Linked DNA regions of Homo sapiens. The protein of the gene in region 2 interacts with the protein of the main gene of each other region in a pairwise test. Each region holds a gene or a part of one and is shown on either strand. Other genes may lie near its edges.

The links.
Region 1: the proteins of PAX2 (region 2) and LMX1B interact in binary tests that used the Homo sapiens proteins (3 or more experiments, as listed by UniProt).
Region 3: the proteins of PAX2 (region 2) and BBS7 interact in a two-hybrid assay, tested with the Homo sapiens proteins (one study listed by BioGRID and IntAct).

What each region holds. Positions count from the first base shown.
Region 1 is NC_000009.12:126,693,928-126,700,927, forward strand, and holds part of LMX1B (LIM homeobox transcription factor 1-beta), read left to right. Parts: intron 1-1,911; coding exon 1,912-2,076; intron 2,077-2,366; coding exon 2,367-2,524; 3' UTR 2,525-7,000. UniProt on the Homo sapiens protein: Transcription factor involved in the regulation of podocyte-expressed genes. Essential for the specification of dorsal limb fate at both the zeugopodal and autopodal levels.
Region 2 is NC_000010.11:100,825,019-100,830,444, forward strand, and holds the end of PAX2 (paired box protein Pax-2), read left to right. Parts: intron 1-1,990; coding exon 1,991-2,077; intron 2,078-2,524; coding exon 2,525-2,601; coding exon of another isoform or gene 2,602-2,665; 3' UTR 2,666-4,926; downstream 4,927-5,426. UniProt on the Homo sapiens protein: Transcription factor that may have a role in kidney cell differentiation. Has a critical role in the development of the urogenital tract, the eyes, and the CNS.
Region 3 is NC_000004.12:121,839,288-121,846,850, reverse strand, and holds part of BBS7 (BBSome complex member BBS7), read left to right. Parts: intron 1-1,154; coding exon 1,155-1,347; intron 1,348-2,849; coding exon 2,850-2,924; intron 2,925-7,154; coding exon 7,155-7,220; intron 7,221-7,563.

The DNA.
Region 1 (7,000 bases), on a different chromosome or scaffold from region 2:
GCTGGGACCGGGGCTGCACCTGTCCCAGGGCTAGGGACAAAGGGGCCCGGGATGTTTCTTTTAACAAAACTTCTCAAAAGCCTTCCACCAAGGCCATCAGATCCCAGGGAACTTCTGCTTTAAAACCACTGAGACAGAGAAATAGAGAAGCCATGGGGACTAGGGGACCCAGGGAGGAGAGATGGCAGAGTGGCTGCCTGGAGGGTTGGCAGAATTTCTGCAATCAGAACAGCAACAGTCTACTCACACTCACTGCGTGCAGACACGGGTCTCAGCCTTCAGCACACCCCATCTCACCCTGTCCTCATAAATCACTGCAAGGGGGGGTATTGCCATGTCCCATTTCACAGATGAGGAAACTGAGGGACTGCCTGGGATCCCTCAGCCAGTAAGGCAAAGCTGGACCTCAGCCCCAAGCCTGGAGCTCAAGCCTGTACCTTTAACAGGATGACACTACCCCACTGCCGGAATTCTGCAGACAAAGCTTGTCAGGGCGTGAAGGGCCTGGGGAGTCGGGAGGGACTAGCTGCAGGGGCATGAGTCAGGCCCCCTCATCACTGGGCTTTACCAAAAATCGTGTTTCCACATCAGAATCTTGAGCCAGGGCTGGTCTCCTGGGCCTTCAAAGCCATGAGGGAGGAGCAGGGAGCTCCCTGGGACTGCTGAAGCAGGCGGGGGACAGAGCTGCCTGCGCCCTGGTGAGAGGGAGGCTTCTGGGCAGGTGCCAGGGCACCAATGGGCAGATACCAGGGCACTGGGGGCCAGGCCAGTGTCCCAGGCTGGACTTGGCTTCTAATGACACAGCCTTAGTGCCTGCTGCTTCCTCGCTTCCCCCTCTGCCCCTCCTGGGGCTGCAGTCACTGCCTCTGGTCTCCCAGCCATGTCCTGGGCTATGTCTCACCCCTCAGTGTTCCTAGCTGCTTCCTGGACACAGCCTCCCTGAGAAGGTCCCACAGTCCCCCCAGCTCATCCCAACCCATGCCGTATGCTCCATCCTGCCCACACGCACATGGCATGCCCTGCTCCTCCCCACCCTTCTCTGCAAATGGCACCACCATCCGCCCTGTCCGAGCCAGGAACCAGGAGTCACCTCTGACCTTCCCCATCCCACACTGCTGATCCACTGAGGTGCCAAGTTGGGGAGTGAAGTCTTCTCATGTCTCTCGCACCCTCCTAGGAGCTGTCTCTCCCACAGCCACCTTGACAGAGACCCCACCCTTCCTCTGGCTTCCTCACCCACTGGCCCCAGCCTCGGTCTCCTCCTCCAGCCTTTCTCACCCTCGTCTACCAAACCCTCCAGCGGCTCCCAGCGGCCTCGGGGACCCCCACCCAGCTCGGCACCCCAGGGCTCCCCATGACCTGTGGTCCCTCTCAGCTGGTCTCCCCCACACCGACCTCTCTCCCTGCCTCTTGGCCCCACGTGCTGCACCCTCACTTACCCGGCGGTCTGTCTCCTCCATGCCTTTGCCGCCCCTCAGCCTGGCTTGCCTCCCCTGCTCTGGCCTGTTGAGCCCCTGCTAGTTCTTTAAGTCACATCAGGGCGGGGGCCCTTTCCTCCAGGAAGTCTTCCCGGGGCCTTTTTGGCCTGGGTCTGGGACCTTGGTGCTCCCAGATGCAGCGCAGAATCACTATTGCCTGTGTGGGGTCTGCCGCCTCCCTGGATCCCCTGGAGGGGCGGGGTGGTGGGAGGAAAGAAGATGAGGAGGGGAGGACTCTGGCTTTTGGTAAGCTGAGCCTGGAGGAGGAGCTGGAGTGTGCACCTGGGGAAGGGGCTGGGGAGTCAGTGTCTGGACAGCTTCAGCCAGAGTGGGGTGCCTGGGGAGTCCCAAGGAGATCAGAAGGGGAGGCTGCTGGGGTGTAGCTGGGAGGGCGTGGACCAGGCCAGGGGGTGAAGGCTCACTGTGCCCCCAGAGGTCCTGTCCAGCCGCATGGAGGGCATGATGGCTTCCTACACGCCGCTGGCCCCACCACAGCAGCAGATCGTGGCCATGGAACAGAGCCCCTACGGCAGCAGCGACCCCTTCCAGCAGGGCCTCACGCCGCCCCAAATGCCAGGTGACCACATGAACCCCTATGGTAAGCCGCCCTACCCCCACCCGCCCGCCCCAGCACAGCCCCTGCCCCCTGCCAGGCCAGGCAGGCCTGGGGCCAGGACAGCCACCTGCTGCCCTAGGGCTCAGGCAGCATGGCCAGCACAGCCCTCCTGCCCCTGCTGACAGGAAGGGCCCCAGTCCTTCTTGGCCGGCACTAGTCAGCAGGCCATCCTGTCTCTCCCTGGCCTCCAGTCACACAGCCTACAGGGCAAACAGGGGGCCCCCAGGAGCCCCAGCCTGTACCCCGGTCCTGACACCCCTTCTGCCCCCCAGGGAACGACTCCATCTTCCATGACATCGACAGCGATACCTCCTTAACCAGCCTCAGCGACTGCTTCCTCGGCTCCTCAGACGTGGGCTCCCTGCAGGCCCGCGTGGGGAACCCCATCGACCGGCTCTACTCCATGCAGAGTTCCTACTTCGCCTCCTGAGAGCCAGCCAGGCGCACGGACGCTTGGGCAGGGGCCTGGGGGGGACTGCCAGCCTCTGCGGCCAGCCTGGCCACCCCCGCCCTGCTCTCCGCACAGACTACAGACAGCCATACGGTGCCCTCCCCTCGGCCAGCTGGGCCTGACCACTGTGCCCGTTGGGTACAGCCAGACCGGTAGATGGGCACAGCCTGGGCAGGGGCTGTGTCCTGCCCACAGAGACCTTGTCATCCCCAGGGACCCAGAGCTCTCGGACGGCCACTCGCCTCCCAGCCCCACCTCGGCCTCCATCGCCTCCTCCCCATCTCTTTTTTGGGAAGCTTAAATTCTCTCTATTTTTTTAAATGTCCTCTCTGTGTCCATGGCCCTCCATGCAAGCCCCAGGACAATGGTGTCATGAGGCGGTGACCTGAGAAGCGTGTGTACCTGTGCCCCAGCAAGGGCAGGGGTGGCCTCTGGGGGCAGGCCCACTGCCTGGAACCGCACACCCCTCAGCCTGAGTCTGGAGCAGCAGTGGAGAGGGGCCTGAGGGGAGGCACTGTCAGGAGGCGGGCTCGGAGCCTGAGCCTGGGCAGGCGCAAAGGGACAGAGAGGCACGTGCAGACACATGCACACTTGCAGACAAACCCACGCAAACACACACACAGCTGTATGGGGACACCAGAAGGGACAGGGATGCTCAGCGGGTCTGTCCTGCCTTGTCAGAAAGAGAAAAGGAGGCCAGGCAGGGGACCCCCCAGTTCTTAAGAGCGATTGGAAAGGGAGGAAGGGGAGAGGAAGAGGCGAACTTGAAGCATCGGACCCAGTTGTATCCCAGCCTGGGCCCAAATGGGGGCAGCCTGGGCAGGGAGGGCAGCCCCAGGCCCCACCAACTCTAGAGGCAGATGGAGCCCCCAGAACCAGGTAGCATCAGACCAGACAACAGAGCCTCCAGGGGTCAGGGACTTCAGAAGCACCTGCTGGGCACCCCATCTGCAATGTGGTCCTCTCCCCAGCCACCTCTGCCTCCCCTCACATACCTCCAGTGACAAGGAGCTCACTAGGTCAGCGAGCCCACAGCAGCTGTGCTGTCCTGCATCCCAGAGCCAGGCTTCCCCAGCTCTCCCTCTTAACACTGTCCCCCAGCAGGCCTCCGGCTGTCCCTCTAAAGGTGTGGGGCAGGTATCACTTCACCTTCCCACTGATGTCAGCCGGCCAGAAGTGAGCAGGCACATCACCTCTCCTGCTGTGGCACCCTTCCTCTGTTAATTTGGCCCAAAAGACAATGATTTGGCCACATGACCTTAGAGATTCACCCTGCCCTGCTGTAGCTAAATCCCTGGGCCCCACACGCAAGTGACAGCTAAGCCACATCTGTTTTCTGTGTATATGCAGGATGGGGGCACCTACTGTTTTGTTTTGTTTTGTTTTGTTTTGTTTTGTTTTGTTTTGTTTTGTTTTGTTTGAGACGGAGTTTCGCTCTTGTTGCCCAGGCTGGAGTGCAATGGCGCGATCTCGGCTCACCACAACCTCCGCCTCCCAGGTTCAAGTGATTCTGATGCCTCAGCCTCCCTAGTAGCTGAGATTACAGGCATGCGCCACCACACCCAGCTAATTTTGTATTTTTAGTAGCAACGGGGTTTCTCCATGTTGGTCAGGCTGGTCTCCAACCCCCGACCTCAGGTGATCCGCCTGCCTCGGCCTCCCAAAGTGCTGGGATTACAGGCGTGAGCCACCGCACCCAGTCTGCACTTACTGTTTAGACTGAATGAGGGACCGTGACCTCTTTCCTTTTCCATTCCTTCTTACTCGATTCATTCCAGCCTGTGGAATTTCTCTGCACCCTGATTCAGTGACCACTGCTCTCCTCTCTCCCAGCACATCTGCCCAGTGAGGAGTTGGCCCTGGGTCTCACCTGAGGTGTGTGGACCGGGCTGGCCTCTCCCTGTTTGACATTGGCCCATTAATGCATCCTCTTTGGGGGACACATTCCAATTGCATTTCCTGCCCCCTTCTCCCAGGGCAATTGCAGAAGATTGTGTCAGGCGCCCTGCTGGAAGTCAGGTGCACTAGATCCATCCCCAGCCCCAGTCTGCTCAACTCTATCCCTGTCAGAGCAAGGAGGCTGGGCTGCTGGGGCCTGACTGGTGAGCCCACCCTGTCCCCTGGTGATCACTGTGTCCCCTTGTTCAGGTGCTCACAACCCTACCTTTAACTCTGAGGTCAAGCCCTAGGCCACCACCCTAAAGTCTGCCTGGTCCAACCTTTGAGCAAGTAAGGATAATGAATGTCCCTTTTCCACCTTTGGGGCCCTCTGCCTGGATCTCTGGAATCCTCTAAGTTCAACCTGTTCTGTGGTTTTGCTCCCGTTTGCTGGGAAATTCAGTCCCCCCAGAATGTCCTGGGCCAACCTCCTTGCCTGACATGTGGCCTCGTGTCACCCATTGGGCCCCAGCAGCCAGCTAGCCCTTCTGCAGCTCTTCTTACAAACAGAGCCTCTCCAAGGACCTCAGTTGATGTTCTGGTCCTTCTGCCGCCTCAGCCCACCAGGGTCCGTGCCACCATGGGTCTCTTGAGCAGCAGCTGCACTGGCTTCTGGAGAGACACCCCTCTTTCTCCTTTTGCACATGCACCATCTGAATCGTGCCAGGGACATCCTGGGCAGATTCAGGGGCAGATGCCCTATCCCCCAGGAGACCTGGCCCTTCTCTCTCAGACCCAATAAGTTGGAAGGGACGTCAGAAGCGGTCATCTCATCTGCCCCTTATTTTATAGTTGGAAACCCTGAGGCAAGAGAGGGAAAGAGGCCTGTCCAAGGTCCGGGTTAGTGACAGAGCTGAGCTGAGAACAGGGACGTTGTGCCCCACTGTCCCCTGTGGTTTGTGAATGACCTCCAGGTCAGGGGGTCACAACTTGTTCTTAGTAAACTTGCCAGCTGTTGGGGTCACATATTCCCATTCTGGGGCCTCACAAACCCCCGAATCCAGCCGGGACCCCATGCCAGGAGCTGGTCTAGGGACAGCATGCTTGTGACCCACAGACTGTTAAAGCCAGAAGGGACCTCAGAGAGTCCCTTATGCTGGAGGCGCCCTGTCAGCCGTGGCTAGGGGCCCCTTGCTCTATGCTGTGCCTTGCTGCCCACAGGCTCCCAGACACCAGTGCCCACTCTGCCCAGCCCCGGACTGGGTGTGGCTCGCAGATGAACAAGATGCAGGGCCTGCCTTGAGGGGTGTCTCCTAGAAGGAAAGCCAGACTCTCCGGCCCAGCCAGAGAGTCCAGACATGGCAGGGACCCGTTTCTCAGATGAGGAGCCTGAGGCTCAGAGAAGGGAGGCGATGTGTTCAGGGCCACCCAGCAGAAGCCTGTGGGGCTGGGCAACCTTCTCCCACTTTATGGGAGGAGCTGCAGCCTTGGCTGGGAGCTGGGCGGGGAGTAGCCAGGACCACCCCTTGCCCGTGCCGTGACATGGAACCTTCATCACTAAGGGGGCTGGAGTGGGAAGAGGGAGATAACTGTGTGGTCTCCAGAGCAAAAGAGAATGAGAGGTGGGCAGGGGGAGTCTTGGCAAAAGACCAAGTTCCACTTCCCTGCTGGGGAAGTCAAGGCTCAGAAAGAGGAAATAATTGCCCCAGGTAACACAGGGCAGAGGAGGGACAAAAAGCTGGGCATGGCCCCAGCCAGAGCCTCATCTGCCTACTCCGTGAAGCCTCCCAGGTACTCTGCTATCCTGGGAAACGCACAGGGAGGCCACACAGAGACACTGCTCACAAGAGTCAGACCAAGGTGCCAGCACAGCCTGGAAAGAGCTCAGAAAGGGGGTTGGTGCACGTGGCTGGGCATCTTAGGAGGCTTCCTGAGGGTGGGTAAAGGTGGGAAGGCCCTGGCGCTGCATCAGATGAGCAGGGCCTGGCAGGGACAAGCCTCTTCTCCTTTGGGAAGCCCTGCAGCCTCCTAGCAAGAGGCTGATTCCCCACTCTGCCCCCATCTGAATGTCCTTTTCATGTTGCACGCAGGGAACCTCAGGAAGGAGGATTGCCTGATGCCTGCCTGGCTCCATCCTTGAGCTCTGGGCACCACCTAGGGTGAGGGAGAGCCTGCAGCTCTGGGGCTAAGTCTGCCCTGGGGGGAAAGGGCTCCACGCTCACACGCACGCGCTCGCACACACACACTCACACCTGGACGCACACGGAGGCTTGCGGACCCATACTCACAGGCACATGTGGCCTGGGGACTGGGGGAGCAGGAAAGACCCCTCCAACATTTGGCCCTTGGAAGGCACCATTGCCAATGAGCCTCTTTGCTGGTTCCCCCGACCCCACCTGGGGGTCCCATGGGAGCCCAGCCCAGCCAGGTGTGGGGATGGGCCACCGGCCATTCCTGTTTTCCTTGTACAGACAGATTCTCACTACCCACCCGCCATCCCCAGACACATTTTATTTAATAACTTGTCATTGTTAAATTATTTATTAGCGTTTACCACACCACCACCCCCACCCTGCC
Region 2 (5,426 bases):
CAAGTCTGTGCCCGAGGAGCACTCAGCCTCAGCTCCACCCTCAGTGCCCAGCCCACCCCAGCCAGCTGACACTGCTTGGAAGAGCCTGCCCTGGTTTCCATGGAAACTTGGAGCCAAGAACCATTTCCAGGGGCATGTCAGTCACTCAGACAAAGCCACCCTGGTCCACACCAAGACACAAGGGAAGACCAATGTTGAGAACCAACCCCAACCCCAACCCAGAGACAGTAGGGAGCTAGTCCCTAAGAGGAATGGAGGTCAGGCTGCGGCGGGAAGCAGGGAGAGTCGCTGCAGTGAGACAGGCTAGAACACCCCTATACCTCTTCAGAGGCACCCAGCCTTCCATTGCTTCCCTGGGGCTCTGACCCATCCCTAATCAGAGGAGTTGGGTTTGGGTTGTTTGAATCAGAGAGACAGAGGCTGTATTTAAGGTCTGGTGACTGCAGCTGGAGGTTGTACTATACCTAACCCCTAACCCCAGATTGGGAGCAGGGTCTTGAAGCCAAAGAGAGTTGAAGTTCCTATGTGCACAAACACCAAAACACTCTTGTCTTAAGGAGGGTTAGACTCACTCAGCCAGCAACTCACTCCCTCTGGCCGCCCTCTATGTGGCCTTTCCCTGAAGTTCAACTCTCATTGGTATGGGGAATGGGGAGGATAGAAGAGAGTGGTTGGCCCCATCCATCCAGGGACATTTAGGTATAACCCTGGGTAAGCAGAGCTTGGGGTAGGGGCAGCGGCAAAGAGGGAGATTGCTGCTGGGTCTTATGGACTAGGGGCTGAAGGGAGTTAGAGGTGTGGGTAAAGGGATTCCTGCCCAGATTTAGGGGAAGGAAAGTAGAAGCCTTGTTGGGAGGCAAGGAGATTTTAGGGAGAAACTCCCAGCAGTGAGCAGGTGGGGGCTGGAGGAGGTTTTAAAGAGGTGGGGTGAGGGAAGAGTGGGGAGGTGGGGGCAGGGAGTCTGCAGGGAGGTGGGGAAGAGGGGAGCCGCAGAGAGCTCGTGGTGTCGAGGGGGGAGTCGTTAAACAGAATCTAGTGCTGATGAGGAAATTACACTTGTTTCATTAGCGATGGGGAAGGAGATAGCTCAGTTCCTCTTGGTCACAGTTGAGCTCAGAAGCTCATTATCCTGCTGCACGCATGCTTTCCCTCCTCGTCAATAAACAGGCTTTCCAGTGGCTGCATCCCCCACCCCCACCCCAGCTCCCTCTCAGAGAGGGGCCCCTTCTCCTCTACTTAACCCGCGGTTAGGGATCACTGTAAACAGTCTGGGGTCATCACACAGGAGAAAGGGCGAGGGGGAAACCTGGAGGCCTGGCCTTTCTCCCGCAGAGGGAGGGAGGTAGCTTCCGACGACGGCTCCCAACCCACGGGCCCTCCGCTCACCGCTAGCGGACCAGCGGGCAGTCCACCTGCGCCGCCTCCATCCCCTGCCGCGTAGCCCACGCATCCAACCTCTTGAGGGAAAGGCGGGAGGGCGGTGTCTCCCAAAAGAGCTCCCACCTCTTGTGTTGGCACTGCACATTGATGCCATTCTTAGGACTTTCTGGGAGAAAAATGTCCCGAAGGCCTTTCTTCGCCACCGCCCCCCACTCCCATTTCCACCCATTAGGGGCCATGCCTCCTAGAACCGGAGTGGCATCTATAAAGGCCCTGGCCCCCAGCGCGACAGGGTGGACGCGCCCCAATACAAACCCTTCGTGGGTGGCCGCGAGCGCCTCCGCTGGGAAGCCCTGGGCGGGCACCGGCCCACAGGTCCCGCCCGTGGGTGTGCGAGCGCGTCGGTGCCTCCCGCCTCCCCGGGCTCTCTCCACGCGGACGCGGTGATCGCCCCACCTCCGCCCGGCCCGCCCGCCACGGCCATTACCCTGCCCGCGACACCTGCGCCTGAGACCCGGCGGGAGGAGCGGGCGGAGAAGCCACCGGCCGGACTCGTGGGGTCCGCCCTGGCTTGCAGGCGTCTGATCCCCACTCCCCGACCCTCCCGCAGGGAGCGAGTTCTCCGGCAACCCGTACAGCCACCCCCAGTACACGGCCTACAACGAGGCTTGGAGATTCAGCAACCCCGCCTTACTAAGTGAGTACGCCACCTGGCTGGCCGGCGGCTCAGCGCGGCCGCGCGGCTTCTGGGCACGGTCCCACTCCCGGCGACCCGACCTCTGGGGACCCGGCCGGGCCAGGGGGACAGGCTTGTTAGTGCAGCACTGAGGCCCGGGGACCCCTCGAGGACGCCCGCACCTCCTGCCCTCCCGTGCCCTCCCTGGTCGCTCGAAGGCTCTGCGCCGCCCTCGCCCTCGGATCCCCTGGAGGGTGCGCAGCCGGGCGTCACCAGATCGGGTCCCTCTCATGCCCCGTGAACGCAACTATTCTCCGGGGCAACTGGCTCCACTGCCCAGCCAAGGTCTCCCAGTCCGGATCCCGCTGGACCCCAGCCAGGGGAGGTCTTTTCTGTGCTTTTCTTTCCTTTTTTGTTCTCCTGTTTGTCCTCTCACCCAGCCCATTCTTCTCCTGTGTTAACTTCCAGGTTCCCCTTATTATTATAGTGCCGCCCCCCGGGGCTCCGCCCCTGCCGCTGCTGCCGCTGCCTATGACCGCCACTAGTTACCGCGGGGACCACATCAAGCTTCAGGCCGACAGCTTCGGCCTCCACATCGTCCCCGTCTGACCCCACCCCGGAGGGAGGGAGGACCGACGCGACGCGATGCCTCCCGGCCACCGCCCCAGCCTCACCCCATCCCACGACCCCCGCAACCCTTCACATCACCCCCCTCGAAGGTCGGACAGGACGGGTGGAGCCGTGGGCGGGACCCTCAGGCCCGGGCCCGCCGCCCCCAGCCCCGCCTGCCGCCCCTCCCCGCCTGCCTGGACTGCGCGGCGCCGTGAGGGGGATTCGGCCCAGCTCGTCCCGGCCTCCACCAAGCCAGCCCCGAAGCCCGCCAGCCACCCTGCCGGACTCGGGCGCGACCTGCTGGCGCGCGCCGGATGTTTCTGTGACACACAATCAGCGCGGACCGCAGCGCGGCCCAGCCCCGGGCACCCGCCTCGGACGCTCGGGCGCCAGGAGGCTTCGCTGGAGGGGCTGGGCCAAGGAGATTAAGAAGAAAACGACTTTCTGCAGGAGGAAGAGCCCGCTGCCGAATCCCTGGGAAAAATTCTTTTCCCCCAGTGCCAGCCGGACTGCCCTCGCCTTCCGGGTGTGCCCTGTCCCAGAAGATGGAATGGGGGTGTGGGGGTCCGGCTCTAGGAACGGGCTTTGGGGGCGTCAGGTCTTTCCAAGGTTGGGACCCAAGGATCGGGGGGCCCAGCAGCCCGCACCGATCGAGCCGGACTCTCGGCTCTTCACTGCTCCTCCTGGCCTGCCTAGTTCCCCAGGGCCCGGCACCTCCTGCTGCGAGACCCGGCTCTCAGCCCTGCCTTGCCCCTACCTCAGCGTCTCTTCCACCTGCTGGCCTCCCAGTTTCCCCTCCTGCCAGTCCTTCGCCTGTCCCTTGACGCCCTGCATCCTCCTCCCTGACTCGCAGCCCCATCGGACGCTCTCCCGGGACCGCCGCAGGACCAGTTTCCATAGACTGCGGACTGGGGTCTTCCTCCAGCAGTTACTTGATGCCCCCTCCCCCGACACAGACTCTCAATCTGCCGGTGGTAAGAACCGGTTCTGAGCTGGCGTCTGAGCTGCTGCGGGGTGGAAGTGGGGGGCTGCCCACTCCACTCCTCCCATCCCCTCCCAGCCTCCTCCTCCGGCAGGAACTGAACAGAACCACAAAAAGTCTACATTTATTTAATATGATGGTCTTTGCAAAAAGGAACAAAACAACACAAAAGCCCACCAGGCTGCTGCTTTGTGGAAAGACGGTGTGTGTCGTGTGAAGGCGAAACCCGGTGTACATAACCCCTCCCCCTCCGCCCCGCCCCGCCCGGCCCCGTAGAGTCCCTGTCGCCCGCCGGCCCTGCCTGTAGATACGCCCCGCTGTCTGTGCTGTGAGAGTCGCCGCTCGCTGGGGGGGAAGGGGGGGACACAGCTACACGCCCATTAAAGCACAGCACGTCCTGGGGGAGGGGGGCATTTTTTATGTTACAAAAAAAAATTACGAAAGAAAAGAAATCTCTATGCAAAATGACGAACATGGTCCTGTGGACTCCTCTGGCCTGTTTTGTTGGCTCTTTCTCTGTAATTCCGTGTTTTCGCTTTTTCCTCCCTGCCCCTCTCTCCCTCTGCCCCTCTCTCCTCTCCGCTTCTCTCCCCCTCTGTCTCTGTCTCTCTCCGTCTCTGTCGCTCTTGTCTGTCTGTCTCTGCTCTTTCCTCGGCCTCTCTCCCCAGACCTGGCCCGGCCGCCCTGTCTCCGCAGGCTAGATCCGAGGTGGCAGCTCCAGCCCCCGGGCTCGCCCCCTCGCGGGCGTGCCCCGCGCGCCCCGGGCGGCCGAAGGCCGGGCCGCCCCGTCCCGCCCCGTAGTTGCTCTTTCGGTAGTGGCGATGCGCCCTGCATGTCTCCTCACCCGTGGATCGTGACGACTCGAAATAACAGAAACAAAGTCAATAAAGTGAAAATAAATAAAAATCCTTGAACAAATCCGAAAAGGCTTGGAGTCCTCGCCCAGATCTCTCTCCCCTGCGAGCCCTTTTTATTTGAGAAGGAAAAAGAGAAAAGAGAATCGTTTAAGGGAACCCGGCGCCCAGCCAGGCTCCAGTGGCCCGAACGGGGCGGCGAGGGCGGCGAGGGCGCCGAGGTCCGGCCCATCCCAGTCCTGTGGGGCTGGCCGGGCAGAGACCCCGGACCCAGGCCCAGGCCTAACCTGCTAAATGTCCCCGGACGGTTCTGGTCTCCTCGGCCACTTTCAGTGCGTCGGTTCGTTTTGATTCTTTTTCTTTTGTGCACATAAGAAATAAATAATAATAATAAATAAAGAATAAAATTTTGTATGTCACTCCCCATGGCTCCAAGTTTGTCTCTCCCTGTCTCTGAGATGGGCCTCCCCTCCATTGGTCGATCCCCAAAAGCCCCTTCAATGATCCTCCCAACTACACTCCCGCTGCCACCTCCAACTCCTTTGCCGAGACCCCCTTGGCGGCAGCTGAACCACGGCGAAGGCCGAGACTAGCCTGCCCTTTAGTAGCCACCCTCCCCCACGCACCCCGGCCCTGGGGACAGGAAGTTCTTACTCTCCGAAACTTCAGAATAACTCCTAGTTAGGCGCCTATACTAGGCCAACTCTGTGGTCCTACCAGTACACCCGCACCCAGATTTAGGGTGCTGGCTCTCAGAACCCGAAGTCTGAGGCCTTCTCCACGTGGGTGGAGGGGTGGTCGTCTGTCCTATCTCCTCCCTCCGTTCCCTATCCAGTGCAGTTGCGCGTGGGCGCAGCAGCAATTTTATCCCCGAAGTCTGCAATGAAACGCGAAGACCGCAGACGCTTGCCGCAAGTTTCCT
Region 3 (7,563 bases), on a different chromosome or scaffold from region 2:
AACTTTTAATGACTGCTCTCCCCATTTCAACCCATGCTGACCTTTTGTGGAGTGAAGGATGATTTTTTTCTGGTGGTAGTTGAAGGCTACAGAAACTTTTAAGGCAGCAAATGCCACAAGTACTAGTAGCACAAGCCGTTTCACCAAAGCCACCAGAGAGCAAACTGTAATGTTCATGCAAACAAGTATACCAGATTCATTCAGGATATCCTACTTCATGCAACAAGGATACAAGTATAGTTAATGACTACTCTCTCACATCCTCAATACATTACCTTTTTTTTATAACCAAGTCTACCATTTCTTGATTCCACTGGAATGTAAGCTTTATGAGAAACTTATATCTGATTTGTTCATTTGATACCCAAACACTGCTAGGTACATAGGAGTAAATATGTAATATTTAGCAGTAAATATTTCTTTGATGAATGAATCTTTTCCTTTGTTCATTACACAGATCCCTTCTAAGCTCCTCCCTAGACTTTTCCTCCTAAACTGTGGCTAGTTAAGCCTCATGTTGTTCTATCCCAATGACTGTTTACTCCATTTGCATGTGGCCCTTCCCCTTAACTGGAGCTCTAAGCAATGCTGTAGTTCAGTCTCAGCAGAATCCTCTCTAACTCTTGGTAGTTAAGCCATACCACTGGCTCATGATCATCCTTGTGGTCCCCAAAATGCTAATGCTCTGCAGCTTCCTTTTTATTTTTTATGTCTCCCCTAATGTCTTACTGAAAGTTACGTGTTTACTGGCTTCACACATTTTGTCTCTTTTCATTAAGACTAATATGTTCTGCAATATTAGTTTCTCTTCTCATTAGTATAAGAAGTTTCTCTTCTGATTAGTACTTTATGTAACTGTAACAAGATTCCTGTGTTAAGATTATTTTGTAGCCTACCATGATATTTAAAACTCTCTATTAATATTGCTAGTATGGGAATGAGTAGATATTTTAATTTTGGGGTTAAGGATAAATAATGTGGAATCATTTAGTCAGTCATAGAAGCAAAAATTTTGCTCCCTTTGTTTTTATTTTATTAACTCAACCAATAAAAACCCATTTTGTAAAAGCAAATGTCTCAAATTTTTGTAAACATCCTAACGACCTCAAATGTTTATACTTATATTTGACAAATTTGTATGTGTTTTTCTCCAGGAATGAGTTGGAACATTTGCAGTATAAGGTATTGCAGGAAAGAGAGAATTATCAACAGTCTTCTCAATCAAGCAAAGCAAAATCAGCAGTACCTTCCTTTGGTATAAATGATAAATTTACACTAAATAAAGATGATGCCAGTTACAGCCTTATCTTAGAGGTACAGACTGCAATAGATAATGTCTTAATACAGGTAAGCAAAATGTCTAATTTCTTAGTTTTATGACTGGATCTATTTTGCAAACCAGTCATATGTACTAATTATTATTGAACATTTTTAGTTTTAGACAGTAATTTTATTTTATTTTTATTTTTATTTTTATTTTTTTGAGACAGAGTTTTACTCTGTCACCTAGACTGGAGTGCAGTGGTGCGATCTCAGCTCACTGTAACCTCCGACTCCCAGGTTCAAGTGATTCTCCTGCCTCAGCCTCCCGAGTAGCTGGGACTACAGGTATGTGCCACCACACCTGGCTAATTTTGTATTTTTAGTAGAGACGGGGTTTCACCATGTTGGCCAGGCTGGTCTTGAACTCCTGACCTCTGGTGATCCACCCGCCTCGGCCTCACAAAGTGCTGGGATTGCAAGCGTGAACCACCCCACCCAGTCATAGACAGTAATTTTAAATGTTTATGGCCTTTTATTCTTCCTTTAGATAATTGGTTTGCTCACAGATTATTTGAATTATATTTTTACTTTTTATTTATGTACTTAACAAACAAAAGATGGGCTTCAGTTTTAAGAAGAGTTAGAAAAGACAGTAAGGTTTTTCTTCTTTGGCTACCCTCTGGGAGAATCTTAACAGAGATGTGACTTAGAAAACTACCATATTTAATGCCCTTGCTAGAACATTTTTTTTTAAAGCCCCAAACATTAAAGTACAGCTTGCTCATTAACCCAACAGTTTCTGGTAGGTCAACAGGCAAAGTAGAGAATACTAAAGGGTGAAATTTAGGGATAATAATATATGACTCCATTCATCAATGTATATATTTACTGACTTATTTAAATTAGAAGGTATTCAGGAAGTAGAAAAGAATAATAGGATGAATAGAAAACAAACAAAAGGTAGTAAACCAATCACAAAATGAGAACATAACAAATTGGAGGAAGAAAAGGTTTAAAAAGATGTAATGGAGAGATCAGATTATTAAAAAAAAAACCTAAAGGCAGAAAACTCTCTTAAGTAATGCTAGCTCACGGGCTGTTGCATTGAACAACTCTAGGAATGCCATTCACATAGGACAGTGCAACAGCTTTGTCCTACAAACTGCCTCTCCAGAGGAGACCAAAAATTATCTTCTTTCTGTGTTACAGGTAAAATTAAAACTGATAAAAATGAACTGATACAATCAGAATGGCCATGTGATTATTTATAGCTCATGGTAACATTTTTAGCACTTTATAAAAATAAGTGGGATGATTGGACTTTTAAGGGGGTGGTGAGAGATGTTATTCTGTGATTTTTATAATCCAAGTTAGAAAAAAGCAGGTGATTGTAAAATAACATTTATTCTTTATTATATTTATTTTCTGGAAGTATATACTATCAAGTATAAGTTAAGAGAATTCATACTCTCAAATTTAAAGATGAATATAAACTAGAACTAAGGAGAACTCTTAGAGAAAACATAATTTATGAACATTTTTAGGTTTTCCATCTCAACCTTCTTTTTTTTTAATATTGACTATAGAGTGATGTTCCAATAGATTTACTTGATGTGGATAAAAATTCTGCTGTTGTTAGCTTTAGCAGCTGTGATTCTGAGGTGAGTAAAAATATAAAAGAATTCTTCACATGCTTTCATTTCTATTATGCCATTTTGATTAAAGTCTATAGATGCTGCTAGGTTTTGATGTTTCTTTTTCAATTATTTCTTATGTAACCTTTCCTTCAAAATCTGTGTCGGTTCTCTTTCCCTGTCCTCAGTCGAGAAACCTGATGTCCTAGATTCCTTCTTTTCTGTGATCTGTTACAGGTTGATATCCCTTATGTGAAATGCTTGGGACCAAGAAGTATTTTGGATTTTGGATTTTTTTCAGGTTTTGGAATATTTGTTTTGTATTTACTGGTTCAGCACCCCAAATTTGAAAATCTGAAATCTGAAATGCTCCAATGAGCGTTTCCTTAAAGTATTATCTTGGCACTCAAAAAGTTTAGAGTTTTGGAACATTTTAGATACTCAGTTTGGGAATGTTCAGCCTATATATCCAATTAGTCACTAGTTTCTGTCAGTTCTACCTCCATGGCTTTCATACTTCCACTTGGCTTCATTCCTACCCCTGTTAACTTAGTCCAGGCCCTTATCATGTCTTGCTTGAACTACTTTATAAGTTTCTCTGCCTCTAGTCTTGCCTCTGACTTCTAGGATATGCTGTATGTACACTACCACCAGAGACGTCTTCCTTCCTAAAACACGAACATCACTGTATCTTTCTTTTCTCAAAACCTTTTCAATATTCCTGATTTCCTGCTAGATATAAATATAGATTCCTTATTGTGGCATAGAAAACTTTCCATGATTCAGCTCTTGATTACATCTCTAACTTCTCTCTCACCGGCTGCTACCACCCCTCCCATGCACATTATTTCTGCCAAACTGAAGTTCTTAAAATTCCTGAAAATGCTATATAGTTTCACACATCCCTGCATTGGAACATGATCTGTTGCTTCCCCCGCTCTTCCTGCCCTGCCCCACTTTTTCTAGGCTTGTTGAATGCATACTAAACTTCATTCAACAGACTTTTATTGAGCACTTAACGTGCACAGTACCTGAGATGATCACGTCAGTGCTTTTGGACATGCTTACTGTATCACTTCTTTCTGCTTAGTACTAGCCGATAAGCAGTCTCAGAGCTAGGTGTGACTCCTGAAGAGAAGTCAAGGTATAGATAAGGTTTGGATTAATTGCATTGTAGAAGGCAAGCCAGAGCAGGAGGAGATGGTAACTGGAGTTGGTGGTTAGTTATATTAATATATATTTTATTTTATTTATATGCATTGGCACTGTTGCAGAATATATTTTATTTATTTGGTTTTTGTTATTTATTTACTTTTTTAAGACATGGTCTCGCTCTGTTGCCCAGGCTGGAGTGCAGTGGCGTGATCATGGCTCGCTGCAGCCTCGACCTCCTTGGCTCAAGCAGATCCTCCCACCTCAGCCTTCCAAGTAGCTGGGACTACAGGCACAAGCCACCATGCCTGGCTGATTTTTAAATTTTTTGTAGAGACAGGGTCTTCCTATGTTGCCCAGGCTGGTCTCAAACTCCTGGGCCTAAGTGATCCTCCCACCTCAGCCTCCCAAAGTGCTGGGATTATAAGCATGAGCCACCACGTCTGGCCTTATATATATATTTTTAAAAAGGAGGAATAAAAGAGTAGATAAAGTAAAATATTGATAGATAAAAGAATAATTTTCTTTTTCTTTTTTTTTTTTTTTTTTTGAGATGGAGTCTCACTCCTCACCCAGGCTGGAGTGCAGTGGCACAATCTCAGCTCACTGCAACCTCCGCCTCCCAGGTTCAAGCAATTCTCCTGTCTCAAGACTCCCAAGTAGCTGGGACTACACGCACACGCCACCACACCCGGCTAATTTTTGTATTTTTAGTAGAGATGGGTTTTTGCCATGTTGGTCAGGCTAGTCTTGAACTCCTGACCTCAGGTGATCCACTGGCCTTGGCCTCCCAAAGTGCTGGGATTACAGGTGTGAGCCACTGTGCCCAGCCTGTTTTTCAATATAACTTCATAGTAAAAATTTTATTTTTAATAAGCGATTTTATAACAGTTGTATTATATTATCAATATGTGGTTTGTCGTTCCTGTTTGAGAACAAAACACAAAAGATATGGCCTACATTTTTATGATTATTTAGAAAATCAGTAAACTTAAAACAAACTTAAAATCTTTGATTCTTAAGTTACTATGAAAGATTAATCTGTTTTAATTACATCACTGAAGGATTCTTTGAAATGACTATTTGATACTAATTTAAAATATATTTTCTAGGACAATGGCTTTAAAAAAACGTATGGAGGTTTCAAGTATACACAAAAGTAGAAAGACTAGTATAATAACTTGCATGTACCCATCACTAATTTTCAACATATGGTTAGTCTTTTTTTTTTTTAAAAGATGGGGGTCTTACTGTGTCACCCAGGCTGGAGTGCAGTGGCGTGATCATAGCTTATTGCAGCCTGAAACTTCTGGGCTTAAGCTTATCTTCTTGTCTCAGTCTCCTGAGTACGTAGGACCATAGGCATATGCCATGATGCCCAGCTAATTTTTTTTATTTTTTATTTTTTGTAGAAATGGGGCCTCACTTTGTTGCCCAGGCTGGTCTTGAACTCCTAGCTTCAAGCTGTCCTTCCACCTTCCAGCCTCCCAAAGTGCTGGGATTACAGGTGTGAGCCACCATGCCCAGCCCAGTCATTTTTTCATGCTCTTCACCCTCTCCTTCCCACTCCCAAACCTCATCCCAAACATGTTATCTGTATCATTTATTGATAAACACTGTAGTATATAACGTTTGCTTTTAATCATACAAGAACACATTTACGGCTTGGCACCGTGGCTCATACGTGTAATCCCAGCACTTTGGGAGCCCAAGGCAGGTGGATCACTTGAGGCCAGGAATTCAAGACCAGCCTGGCCAACATGGTAAAACACCCTCTTTACTAAAAATACATAACAAGTAGCTGGGTGTGGTGGCATGCACCTGTAGTCCCAGCTATTTGGGAGGCTGAGGTATGAGAGTCAGTTGAGCCCAGGAGGCAGAGGTTACATTGAGCTGAGATCACACCACTGCACTCTAGCCTGGGCAACACAGCAAGACTCTGTCTCAAAAAAAAAAAAAAAGAATATATTTACTTTTAAATTGATCAGTCCTCTCTGTTGAGTTTAAATGATTTGAAATTGAAATGTTTGAGTTTTATATTTTATATTACCATCCTTTTTATTTCTTTGATTATTTAATAAAAATAGAGAAATAGCAGTCTCAAAAATTACATATAAATTATCTTATGTTGCTGTGTCTCTTTTTGTAATCCATGAACCTAGCTACATTTCTCTATTTCTAGTAGTTTAATATTCAATTTCAAGAAGTTATAATATTTGAAAAAACTCCTCTAGGTTAGTTCAACAAACATGTATTAAGCACTTACAGTATGCCAGGCACTGTGCCATTTGCTGGGAATACAGAGAAGAGATATTTCTCTTTCCTGTATAAGTATTTGTGAAAAATCTAAGAGATTCAATATTAAACTCTGGTGTATGTGCCTTTACAGTATAAACATTTTGTATTAGTCCATTTTCACACTGCTGATAAAGACATATCCAAGATGGGACAATTTACAAAAGAAAGAGGTTTATTGGACTCACAGTTCCACCTGGCTGGGGAGGCCTCACAATCATGGCGGAAGGTGAAAGGCACATCTCACATGGCGGCAGACAAGAGAAAATGAGAGCCAAGAGAAAGGGGTTTCCCCTTATAAAACCATCAGATCTTATTCACTACCATGAGAGCAGTATGGGAGAAAATGGCCCCATGATTCAATTATCTCCCACTGAGTCCCTCCCACAACACATGGGAATTATGGCAGTACAATTCAAGATGAGATTTGAATGGGGACAGAGCCAAACCATATCACATTTGGTGTTTGCATTGTCAGATTTTTAGAAGAATTCTTAATGTTTAAAAATGTTATTGTAAAAACTCAAGATGGAAAGAGCATGAGCTTTCGATAGGAATTTGAATTCCAGTTTCATCACTTAATGGCTTTTATTTAACTCCTCATAACCTCAGTTTCTTCATCTGTTAAAATTTAATTAGTAAAACTTAGTGCATAGAGTTTTTGTAAGTGTAAGTTAGAACATGTTTGAAAAGCGCTGAGCACCAATGACAGGTGCTTAAGCAAATGGTAACCATTATTATTATTGATGTCTTTTTTTTGTTGCTAAAAACATGGATTCATTCTTTTCCTCCACTTTGTATTCTTCCCAGTCAAACGACAACTTCCTTCTTGCCACTTATCGGTGCCAGGCAGATACTACAAGGCTGGAACTCAAGGTAAAAATATTAGAAATTACCTTTACTTGAATGTTTGAATTTCCTTTTTCCTGCTGGTATGTCTTACAACATATGATATTATTTGTTTGCATTTAATTTCTCCCTGAAATGAATTGTTTGGAGTAATGAATTTTGAATGACCAGTTAGGATGTAATTTAGCCCACACCACAATCTCTGCTATTACTTCTTAATCACCTTCTCTAAAATTATTGATTTTATTTTTTAAATAGAAACTGGATTTTGCCATGTTGCCCAGGTTGGTCTCAAACTCCTGAGCTGAAGCAATCCACATGCCTCAGCCTCCCAAAGTGCTGGGATTACAGGGGTGAGCCACCATGCCCG